2 separate regions of the Homo sapiens genome follow, and region 1 is linked to region 2. The links come from fine-mapping of genetic effects on gene expression. A gene starts in region 2. The other region holds a variant in brackets. All regions are shown on one strand. Distances are between the middles of the regions. Region 1 overlaps GRIP1 (glutamate receptor interacting protein 1). Region 2 holds the start of GRIP1 (glutamate receptor interacting protein 1).

Region 1 (5,383 bases), 270 kb after region 2:
CTCAAAACTTTATTGTTTACTCAAAACAGTAATTTAGAATTCTCTGTATGAAAGGCCATACATCTCTATTTCTCTGTGATTGGTCTTTCGTGCCTTATTTAGTTCACTTGGTGAGGTCGTGTTTTCTCAGATGGTCTTGATGCTCATGGATGTTCATTGGTGTCTGAGAATTGAATTGTTAAGTATTTATTATAGTCTTTGCAGTCTGGGCTTGTTTGTACCTGTCCTTCTTGGGAAGGCTTTCTAAGTATTCGAAGGGGCTTGGGTGTTGTGATCTAAGTTTTTGGTCACTTCACCTGTATCTCCATTAGGGGGCACCCCAAGTCCAGTAACACTATGGCTCTTGCAGACTCAAAAATACTGCCTTGGTGGTCTTGGGTAAGATCCAGAAGAATCATCTGGATTACTAGGCAGAGACTCTTGTTCTCTTCCTTTTCTTCCAAACAGATATAGTCTCTCTCTCAGTGCTGAGCTGCCTGAAGCTGAGGGGTGGTGGGGTGACACAAGCACCCCTTGGTCACCACCACTGAGACTATGCTGGTTCAGACCTGAAGCCAACGTGGTACTAGGTCTCAACTATGGCTGCCAGTAAACCCTTACTGGCTACCACTAGGCCATGTTCACTCAAGGACCAAAGGCTCTACAATCAGCAGGTGGCAAAGCCAGCCAGGGTAGTATCCTTCTTTTCAGGGCAGTGAGCTCCCCCTGGCCCCTTGCAGGTCTAAAGATGCCATCTAGGAGCCTGGTCCTAGAGTCAAAAACCTTAGGAATCTACCTGGTGCTCTATTCTACTATAGCTGAGCTGGCACCCAAGACACAAGACAAAGTCCTTCCCATCCTTTCCTCAAGGAGAGAAGTCTCTCCCCCTGGCCACCACTGCTCCAGGCCCATGGCAAGTACTGCCTGGCTATTGCTGATGTTCACTCAAGACCCAAAGGCTCTTCAGTCAGCTTGTGGCGAATGCTGCCAGGGCCGGGACTCTTCTTTCAAGGCGATGGGCTCCCCTCTGTCCCAGAGCAGGTCCACAAACGTCCAAGAGCTAAGGCCTAGAATCAGGGAACCCAAGAGCCCACTTGGTACTCTACCCTACTGTTGCAGAGCTGGTACCTAAGCTTCAAGATAAAGTCCTTTTTACTATTCCTCTGCTTTTCTCAAGCAGAAACAGCCTCTCCCCATAGCCACCACAGCTGGGAATGTGCTGGGTCACACCTGAAGCCAGCACAACTCAGAGTCTCACCTAAGGCCCACAGCAAGTACTACCTGACTACTGCTGCTGATTTTATTTTTTTATTATATTTAATTTTATTTATTTTTTGAGACAGAGTCTCATTCTGTTGCCCAGGCTGGAGTGCAGTGGTGCAATCGGCTCACTGCAACCTGCACCTCCCAGGTTCAAGTGATTCTCCTGCCTCAGCCTCCCGAATAGCTGGGATTACAGGCGTGCACCACCACGCCTGGCTAACTTTTGTATTTTTAGTACAGACCGAGTTTCACCATGCTGGCCAGGATGGTCTTGAACTCCTGGTCTCAAGTGATCCACCCACCTCGGCCTCCCAAAGTGCTGGGATTACAGGCATGAGCCACCGCGCCCAGCCATGCTGCTGATTATTCAGGGCCCGAGGGATATTTAGTCAGCAGGTGAAAAATGCTGCCAGGACTGGGTCCTTCCCTTCAAGGCAGCAGGTTCCCTTGCAGCCCTGGGTGTGTCTAGAAATGTTATCCCGGGGCAAAGACCTAGAAAAGGGGCCTTAGGACTCTGCCCGGTGCCCTGTCGTACTATGGCTGAGCTGATATCCAAGTTGCAAGACAAAGTCTTCTTTACTCTCCCCTCTTCTCTACTCAGTTAGAGTGAAGGACTCTCTCTGGGAGTTGTGAGCTGTGCTGTGTAGGGCTAGGGGAGGGGTGTTGCAAGCACTCACTTAGCCACCCCAGCTGGTTTCTCACTAGGTCACATGCCCCCCAAGTCTACTGGCTCTGAGCTCAGCACAGCATCAGGGCTTGTCCAGGAATTGCTGTCTTTGTGGCTTTAAACTGTCTTGAGTTTATTTAGTACCCAAGAACACTTTAGCGTGCAGCAGTGAGGCGTGTTGGAACTCAAGTTCTGACCACCGGAATGG[G/A]TGATTCCCCTCTGCCTAGGGCTGATCTAAATGTTCCCTCCGTGGATATCAGCTGACTTCTGCCCAGTGTTGCTTTCCGCTGTGACAGGGTAGCACTGAGTTTCAATGCAGTCTCTCCCTCACTGTGTTCTCCCTCCCACAAGTGCACAGTTTTTCTCTCCATGCCATGTGGCTGCTGCAGAAGGAATGGGGGAGGGGCCGGCATCATCAGTTCAAGACTTTCTTTCCTACCCTCTTCAGTGCCTCTTTCAATGATATGAAGTTAAAACCAGGTACTGTGATTGCTCATCTGATTTTTGGTTCTTATAAAGGTGCTTTTCTGTATGGATAGTTGTTAAATTTGGTGTTCCTGCAAGGAGGATGATCAGTGGAGGCTTTTATTCAGCCACCTTGCTCCGCCTCCCTCCTGTTACCATTTTCTAGCTACAGGCAGGAGGTGGGGAGGGTCCCCAGAGAGTCTGGGGCATGCATTTTTAGAGGGTAACTTAAAAGAAGGGAAGGGAGAATGGATGCTGGGAGACAATTAGCAGTCTCTGGCACAGATATAATGCATAAAAGGCTGTTCTTACAAATCTGTGTATATATACATATACACACATAGAAACATATACATACTACATTCACATTATTTTTTTTGTTGTTTCATTATGGACCTTAAAATTTTTTTCAACAGACCTACCCTGGTCCACAGCCAGTTTTAGAGTCTCAGTGGCCACTTTCCAAATAAGAAGCTATGGATTCATCTATAAATTTTCATGCTACTCTGGCCATAGTGAGTTTCCAGATGCAAGTGGAAGTAGCAGAGGTGCAAGCCTTAGGCTTCCACTAACTCTATTACACCTTGCCTTCTGTCATTCTCTTAATGCTCTCCTAGTATCTGGACTACCAAGGATCAAAAGTAATACAACAATATGGAGAAAGACAAGGATACCTGGGTCTATGCAGACCCTCGCCCATTACCTCCCTTCCTAGGAATTGTATGCTTCCTGAGTGACACATATGTTCTTGTTTAATTGAAAAAAGTATAAGAAAAAATGTTTTTAATACTCTGCAATTTAATATCATGGCAGGCAACCCAAATAAGACTAGAAGAAGGGAGGGAGTTGTCAATGAAGTACAATTTAAAAACAGTTGAACCTCTTTTCCTCTAAAGACTACCATAATGCTGCATTATGCTTAATGCCTCTTTAAATGGCCTAGTTAAGTGCTCATCATTAGTCATGTGTTACTTTGCATTCACTAACAGAACTGGGACCCTGGAACTTGGGGATAAATTGCTCGCAATAGATAATATCCGGCTGGACAACTGTTCCATGGAAGATGCAGTTCAGATCCTCCAGCAATGTGAAGACCTGGTGAAGCTCAAAATCCGCAAAGATGAAGATAATTCAGGTATTGAGAGCATCCTTAGTTAAAACTGATTTTTCGAACTGCCCATCTGTCACCAAAGATATTAGATCTTGATGTTTTACATACAACAGCTGGCTAGTGATGTGGCAGCAGTGTTTCACAGCTAAAAGAGTCTTTAAATTTTGTGCTGAGAGTGTAGTACAAATTTTAAATAATGGTGCTTGTAAATGATATCATTAAGATATTTTCATTATAGAAAACATATTATAATTGCATGAAAATAATTTTTAAAGATGAAATCTAAATCATCATCTAATACAGTGAAACTGGTAGTTTTCTAGTTTTTATTGGTATTCATATGGCATAACTATAACCAAGTGAATGTTGCATTTTTTTACCTAATTTTACATTGTAAACATTTGATCGTTTTATAAACTCTTAATATCTATCATTTTTATTGACTGCCTGTGATTTACCTTTCTTCTCTTCTTAAATCACTATATTGCTTCCAATTGTTTCATTATTGTAAATAGTACTCTTATAGACATCTTTATGCATAGATATCTTTATCCAGCTTTTTTTTTCTTTTGAAATAAGAAAATATTCCTAGAAGCAGGATGGCTGAGTAAGAATACAAAGGAAATGTCTATGATTCCTGATGAGTCAGTCATGCCCCATGTTGCTTTTCAAAAGGGCTATACACATTTTTTAGGCCCTCCAATCAAACTTAGGAGGGCATAGAATCATATCTGAAGAGCTTGTTAAAACACAGATCCTGGCACCACCCCAGGTGGGACCTGAGATTCTGGATTCCTAATAAACACCCAGATGCTGCCACAGCTGTGGTGCAAGGAGCACACTTTGGGTAGCCCTGAAATAAGAGACATCTTATCTGATTATGATAAGAATATAGAGCCAATTGAAAAGTGTCCATTCACCAAAAGAGTCAGCTAATGTGGGGAATTACAGAATGTGATATGGATCCATAAAGTAAACGTTTAATTTACAATTTTGCCAATCTCGTGGGTAAAGTCAAGGCCTTTCCTATTAATATGGTTCTGCTGATTATACTTACAAGTCTTTTTGTTTGTTTGCCTAAACCGTATCCACAATATATATTTTATGATTTCCAGTTTTATTTTGGTTTGGTTTGGTTTTTAATGCAGTGAGACTTTAAAGAATTTATAGCAATCTGAATTCTTCCTCCACCTAGATTTTGGTTTTCCCCAATGTTGTAGAGTTTTTCCATTAGGTAATTAACAGTAGATGTTTTGTTTGTTTGTTTCTTGTTTTGTGTGGCACACCCAGGCTGGAGTGTGCCATGGAGTGCAGTGGCGCCAACTCTGCTCACTGCAACCTCCACCTCCCAGGTTCAAGCAATTCTTGTGCCTCAGCCTCCTGAGTAGCTGGAACTACTGGTGTGTGTCACCTTTCCTGGCTAATTGTTGTATTTTTAGTAGAGATGGAGTTTTGCCATGTTGGCCAGGCTGGTCTCAAACTCCTGACCTCAAGTGATCTGCCCACCTCGGCCTCCCAAAGTGCTGGGATTACAGGTGTGAGCCACTGCGCCTGGCCATAGATTTTTGCCTAACGAACCCTTATTGAATCTTTCCAAACCATTGGATTTTGTTTTCATAGAACAACTACATTCATATTTCATAGGTTATATAAGATTAATTAAATTACATAGTTAAAATAACAAGTACAGCTGGCATAAACGGGTTTAGGAATAAATATAATTGCCTCTAGATTTTGAAGTTTACAACTCAAGCAGGAGCAGGAGCAGAAGCCCAGAGGGGCAACATAAAGAAACCTATTGCTCTGGAGCATGCCATGGCATTGGTCTGTACATTTTATGGTGGAAGACGAACAGCCACAATTAATTCAGTAAATTGGTTAAGTGGAGATTGGTTAAG
Region 2 (5,383 bases):
GCAAGGAAGCAGTGAAAAACAAGAGGAGAAAGAATGATTAGCCAGGGGTGAGAAGCTATGGTTCTTTCCTGTTCTTTACCACTTACTAGCTGAATGACTTTGATGAAAAACACCTTCTCTGAAACCAGTTTTCCTTTTCTGCATCAAAAACCTATAACAGAGTCGCTCCATGATACATTATGTGTGAAAGTGCCTTCTAATTCATTAAATTCTATGTAAACGTGGTACACTTGTATTACACCTTAGCAAAACTAATGTTTTAAAGAAACCCTGAAATAAGAATTATCATCTTAAGGGACTAGTCTGCCCTGAATCCAGCAAACCCATGTTTTCATGTATTGAGGTGTTTGTGTTTTTAAGAGGGGTAAACCTCTTGAACTAGCTCACTCACTCTTCTTCAGATCACATTGGGGCTTAATCAAATCTGTATTTTGTACAATTTTACCTGCCTTCTTTTTCCATAACCCCTACTTGGTGACCCTCACAGAGCATGTTGTAAAGTTTGAACTGTCTAGACAGCTGAGCCACCATAATTAACATGTTCATGACAGGTCCCAAAGACACATGCTTACATTGATCTGGTAGCCAAGAAATGTAGGTCACTCTGCCTTGTAGTAGCTCATGTTAGGAGCCTGTGGTCCACATTCCACCGGTTGCCTTGGCCATTTGAGACCTTCATCCTACAGATCGATACATTTTGAGATAGAAGGCTTGCATTGTTGGAAGGCATTTTACCAGTGCTAGAGTTCAGGATGGGAGGCTAAGCTTGCATTAGGCAAAGGGAGGACAAAGGGTTTAGGGCAAGAAGGTTGACCTGGGAGTGGCTCCCCAGGAAATCTCCAAGCATTAGCGAGGCCAGAAATGGAAGAAGATGGGAATACCTGGTGAATTCGTTCATTTTCTGGAAAAGAATTACTCCAGGAGGCTCCATTTCTGTAAGATTCCTGGGGCTGCACCTGGGCAGACTAATAGGATAGATATGGATTGGCAGCCACAGTATTCAAAGAGAGAAAAAACAATCCCCTAGTTTGGGCTCTCAGAAACCTTTCAAAGAGCTCCATGATGGGTTATTTCCCCTGCCAAAGAAATAGGACATTTTAGTAGTTCTGAAGACCTTTCTTGGGACCAGAGGATAGAGCTTTTAAAACAAAACAAAAAAAATAAGCATATTAGGAAAAGGGGAAAATATTTGATCATTTTAGTCATAAGGAAAAAGCAAATTGGATTTGAGTCTGCAAAATAGCAGAAGGCAAGAGATTCCTGTATGGTTTTGAGTTGTATTTGAATAGACTGGGCTGGGGTGGTGGTGTTCCACAGGCAAGATTCTACTAATAGTAATTGACAGCTGCGTATTCTGAGTGCCTGGATTTTAGGAAATATGTTAGATTTGGAGAAGAATCTTGGAAAGAGCTAACTGTAAGTATTTATCTCACTTTAGCTAGTAACTCAGTTCTCTAGTACTAAGGTATATTTCTATTTAAAGCAAAAAAATATCAAGGAGGCTAAACTATTTCTAGGGATAACCTAATAGAGATGAACATAATATGGGTTGAAATTCAAAGAAAGATTTATGCTAATCAGAACAATTATAAAAATTTGATTTTGCACTGCAGTCCATTTAATATAGTATTTTCTATTGATTAGTGGTTGCTTTAGCTAGACCATCCTTGGTAAAAGAATTCTGTTCTTTTCAAAAACCTTTAAAGTAGATGCTTATGATATTCAGATGTTTTTCACACACAAATTATTTTTCTATTGGACTCAAAATACAAAGCATATGCATTTCAATAGCAGTGGATTGAAATTGTTTGAGTTCATATTGAATTTATGAATGAAGAAAAGAAAGTTTTACCACTAAATTTGGAATGTTGGAAGTTATTTTAAAAACCAGCTTGAAAGTTTTTTCACAGCCTGAAGAGTAGAGAATAAAACTGTATGAATAATTCATAAAGTCCTAGAAATATTAATCAAGTAGTTTAGACAGTGATATATCTTTTCATTTTGACTAATTGATTTTTTTTTTCTTAAACTTCCTGGCCAACTGTCTAATTTTTTGTCCTGAATGTTTATGTTAACTCCTGTGGGAGAATTCTGGATTTTGATTAAAATTCCCTACCAAATGTTAGTTCGTATTGACTATATGGCGAGCAGGCTGCTGCTGGCAGATGAGGAGGTGTGCTCCGCCTTCTTATCACTTTGTGAATGGATTGTGAAGGGTTTGTTAATTTGCTCTTCACTCCATTGGAGCAGATACTCACAAATATCTGCTATGTCGCAAGACCGTTTTATTTGCATAATGAGAAGAATGGTTTGGGGGATGGTTGTTTGGGAAATAGTATAATAAAGTATATTAAAAATAGAAATACTTGGCCTTGTTTGCCTTTATTTCTGGTATCTTTAGAAACAGTCTTGACTGTGTTGCTTTCCAGCCAAGTCCTTTTTTGGAAGGGTGATTAAAGGGGCTGGGACTCCATCTGCCTGATTGTCTGCCTAGCCCTAACCCTTTCTTGTATTCCCTCTATAAACAGACACTGCCTTAACTCTCATAGGTTCAGGAAGTACCAAAGAGGTCTCTGTCCTAGAGCTGCTTCCCCGCTATAGGCAGAACTGTGATTCTTTCCTCAATCCCAAATATAAACGGCCCTCCCTCTTTTTCTTTCCTTTTTTTTTTTTTTTTTTTTGGTTGTTGTTTAAAGAACATAGTACATGACCCATGCATTTCTTCCTAAAGTAAGAGTGTAAGCATTTCACTTGCATTTCCCATTAAATGAGACATATAAAGGACACTGACTTGATGCTGAGAAGGAAAGGGGCTGATGGTGGCTGAACTGACTGGATACATCGCCTTTTGCCTTAAACAGAATGCACTGTTCAGTGCTTAGCGTTAGATTTATGGAATGGCTCCTCACACAGTGTCGTCCCTGCTTTGTACAATTTGGTGCTTTGTTGCTATCGAAACGGCATTACTTTCTAAGCCATTGTGATTGTGAAGGGGGAGGAGGCTGTGGCAGGCAGGGGTGGTAGTAGTAGTGAATGACACAGATTTGCCAGATGACATGTAGCGGACCTCTGCATCAGCCAAGAGGAATTAAGCTTTGTCACTCCCCACTGGGACTACCTTTCTCCTGGTATGTGCGCAAGGAATTCATATGCTGCTGCTGCTGCAGCCACCAGAGCAGAGAGCCTTGAGTACACTTTGCCACAGAAAGCAGTGAGCAAGAATGATAGCTGTCTCTTTTAAATGCCGTTGTCAAATTCTGAGGCGACTTACTAAAGGTATCGTGCTTTCCTTGTTATTCCCTCAGCGAGTCTGTTGCAGTATCCTATAAACACAGTTTAATGGTTTTTACTTTCAAATATGACTGCCTTTGCAATTTATTGTCAGGCAACAAAGAACTCAGTGAAATATGTATAGATACATATGTACAGGTAGACTCGGCTTTGCTTTCTGTCCTTACATCTCGGTTGTGTTCGTGCTGAAATTATGAAAGCAGCTTGTGTGATTTTTTTTTTAATGACTTCATTCTTTGCTGAAAAGAGAATGTGTTTGGGTCCGGTGCTGAAGTTATTGTGGGAAACCGTCATTTTGCATGCTGATTAACTGGCCAAAAGGAGTCAAGTGTGTGTTACTGTCCTTTCTATGATACATATACTAAATGCAGCTGGCAGATTCAGGACTCGCACAGCTGGTGGATCCACAGAATAATTGTTTGTTCTATGACTTTCCAACATCTTAAGAGCTTTTTCCCTGGACAGCTTTAATTTCTTTATGTGTTAGAATTGCATGTTCAGAAAAGTATGTAATTCCAAATGCTTTGGTCCTATGTAATACTAGAAGTTTATTTGAAAGTAAAAATCATTGCTCGGAATCTTATCATCAAGAATTACCAGCTTCAGATTGTCACTCTTAGAACTCTAAAATAGTAATTAAATTTCTCTGTAATATTTAAGGTATTATTTTATTTGAAACCATTCTGGATGTGCCATCTCGTTTACTTTGTGAGCATTCTATTGCAAAGTTAGTAAATGGATGCCTTAAAAATCCTGCCTTGTGTCCATATAGATATGTGAGCTCTCTTGCCTTATTTCCTTTAGATAGAACCTTCCTTAGAGAAAATTTATTATTTAAAAAAAAACTTCATTCTGAGTAAAAGTATTTAGTTGCAAATGCCTTTCTTTTTCAGCCTGTAATATAGAGTACTGTTGAGTAATTAATGGATATAATTATGTTCTAGAAGCTCTGAACCTATAAATATGTTAATGGATGCTATTTCTGTCAGTTTAGCTTGACATATCAGAATTCTTTGATCACCAGCAGTGCAGCTAAAAATGCAATTAATATTTTATCTGGCAGAAGAATGAGCACAAAGCAAATCATGAGAAATAGATCTTGAGTCAATAACAGGAAAGAGAATAAATACTGTAGACCAACTTACCGAATGCATTTGCAAGTTGTTTGGATAGCAGAGTGAGTCCTTTAAAAGGTACTTTGGGGGAAATGTAGGGAAGATTATACATTTTAAATTAGGCTATTAGCAGGAGGCTGTAAATTCTGTTTTGACTTTATCCTCTACAATTGGTACAGACGTACAATTTCTGTTTATAAATCATGACTAAGAGACTATCCTTTCTGTTACGGTTTTGGCTGAGACTTTTAAAGGCAGGCCCTTATTCTGAAAAGTTCTTTTCTGACCTGATTTTGGCATTTACTTATCTTGATGTTGAGAAGTTGATGGTCTTCTTACATCATAAACATGAAACAATCAGTATTTTCTATTCATCTGTATCAGTTCTTTTATAAGTACTACATACAAGGAAGAGAGTGAACCCAAGCAATTTATAGTTCTTACAAATATTTTTAACTTTCTCAGTTTTCTGAATTTTATGGAAGCATTGATCTCCTGCATTGAAAGGAGATTTAAGTGTTTACTAAGATAGTCGCTAAAAATCTAGATAATTGAGGAAAGTATTGATAACTGCTTTGGAGTTGCTACCTCACACTTTTTTCCAAAATCTTTATGTCTGCTCTATTTGGTATTTAACTTAAGACTGTCAGTTGATGATTAAAATAAAATCTCTTTGCAGAATCAATTTGCCATAATTGGGTTCTTCTTTGTGTTTAACTGGCTGTCCAAATACTTACAAGAATGCACCTGAGTAACACGGTACCTTGCCTTGCCATCTGCTTCAGTCTTGTCCAACAACGTTCAAGTTCCACCCATGCTTCTTGTTCCAAAGTGGATTCATTGAGTTCTAGCACCCCACCCATACTTGTGGTGCTGTTTTCTTAAGCTGTAATGATAAAACCAGGAAACATATGTAATTACAATATTAAAATGACCTTTCTTTTAGGGTCAGGAGTGTATTTGGGGACAGGGGTGGA

The links.
Region 1: its variant is fine-mapped to the expression of GRIP1 in whole blood (INTERVAL, PIP above 0.99).

The regions. Positions count from the first base shown.
Region 1 is chr12:66,404,409-66,409,791 of GRCh38, reverse strand. It overlaps GRIP1 (glutamate receptor interacting protein 1), which reads left to right. Exons shown (of 25, transcript NM_001366722.1): 16 at 3,364-3,509. Among named protein-coding and RNA genes, the nearest start is that of HELB, 100 kb to the right of the region's middle. RefSeq lists an enhancer at 1,467-1,967. The variant G/A (reference allele first, on the strand shown) is at 2,118.
Region 2 is chr12:66,676,743-66,682,125 of GRCh38, reverse strand. It overlaps GRIP1 (glutamate receptor interacting protein 1), which reads left to right and starts at 3,050. Exons shown (of 25, transcript NM_001366722.1): 1 at 3,050-3,276. The coding sequence starts at 3,222.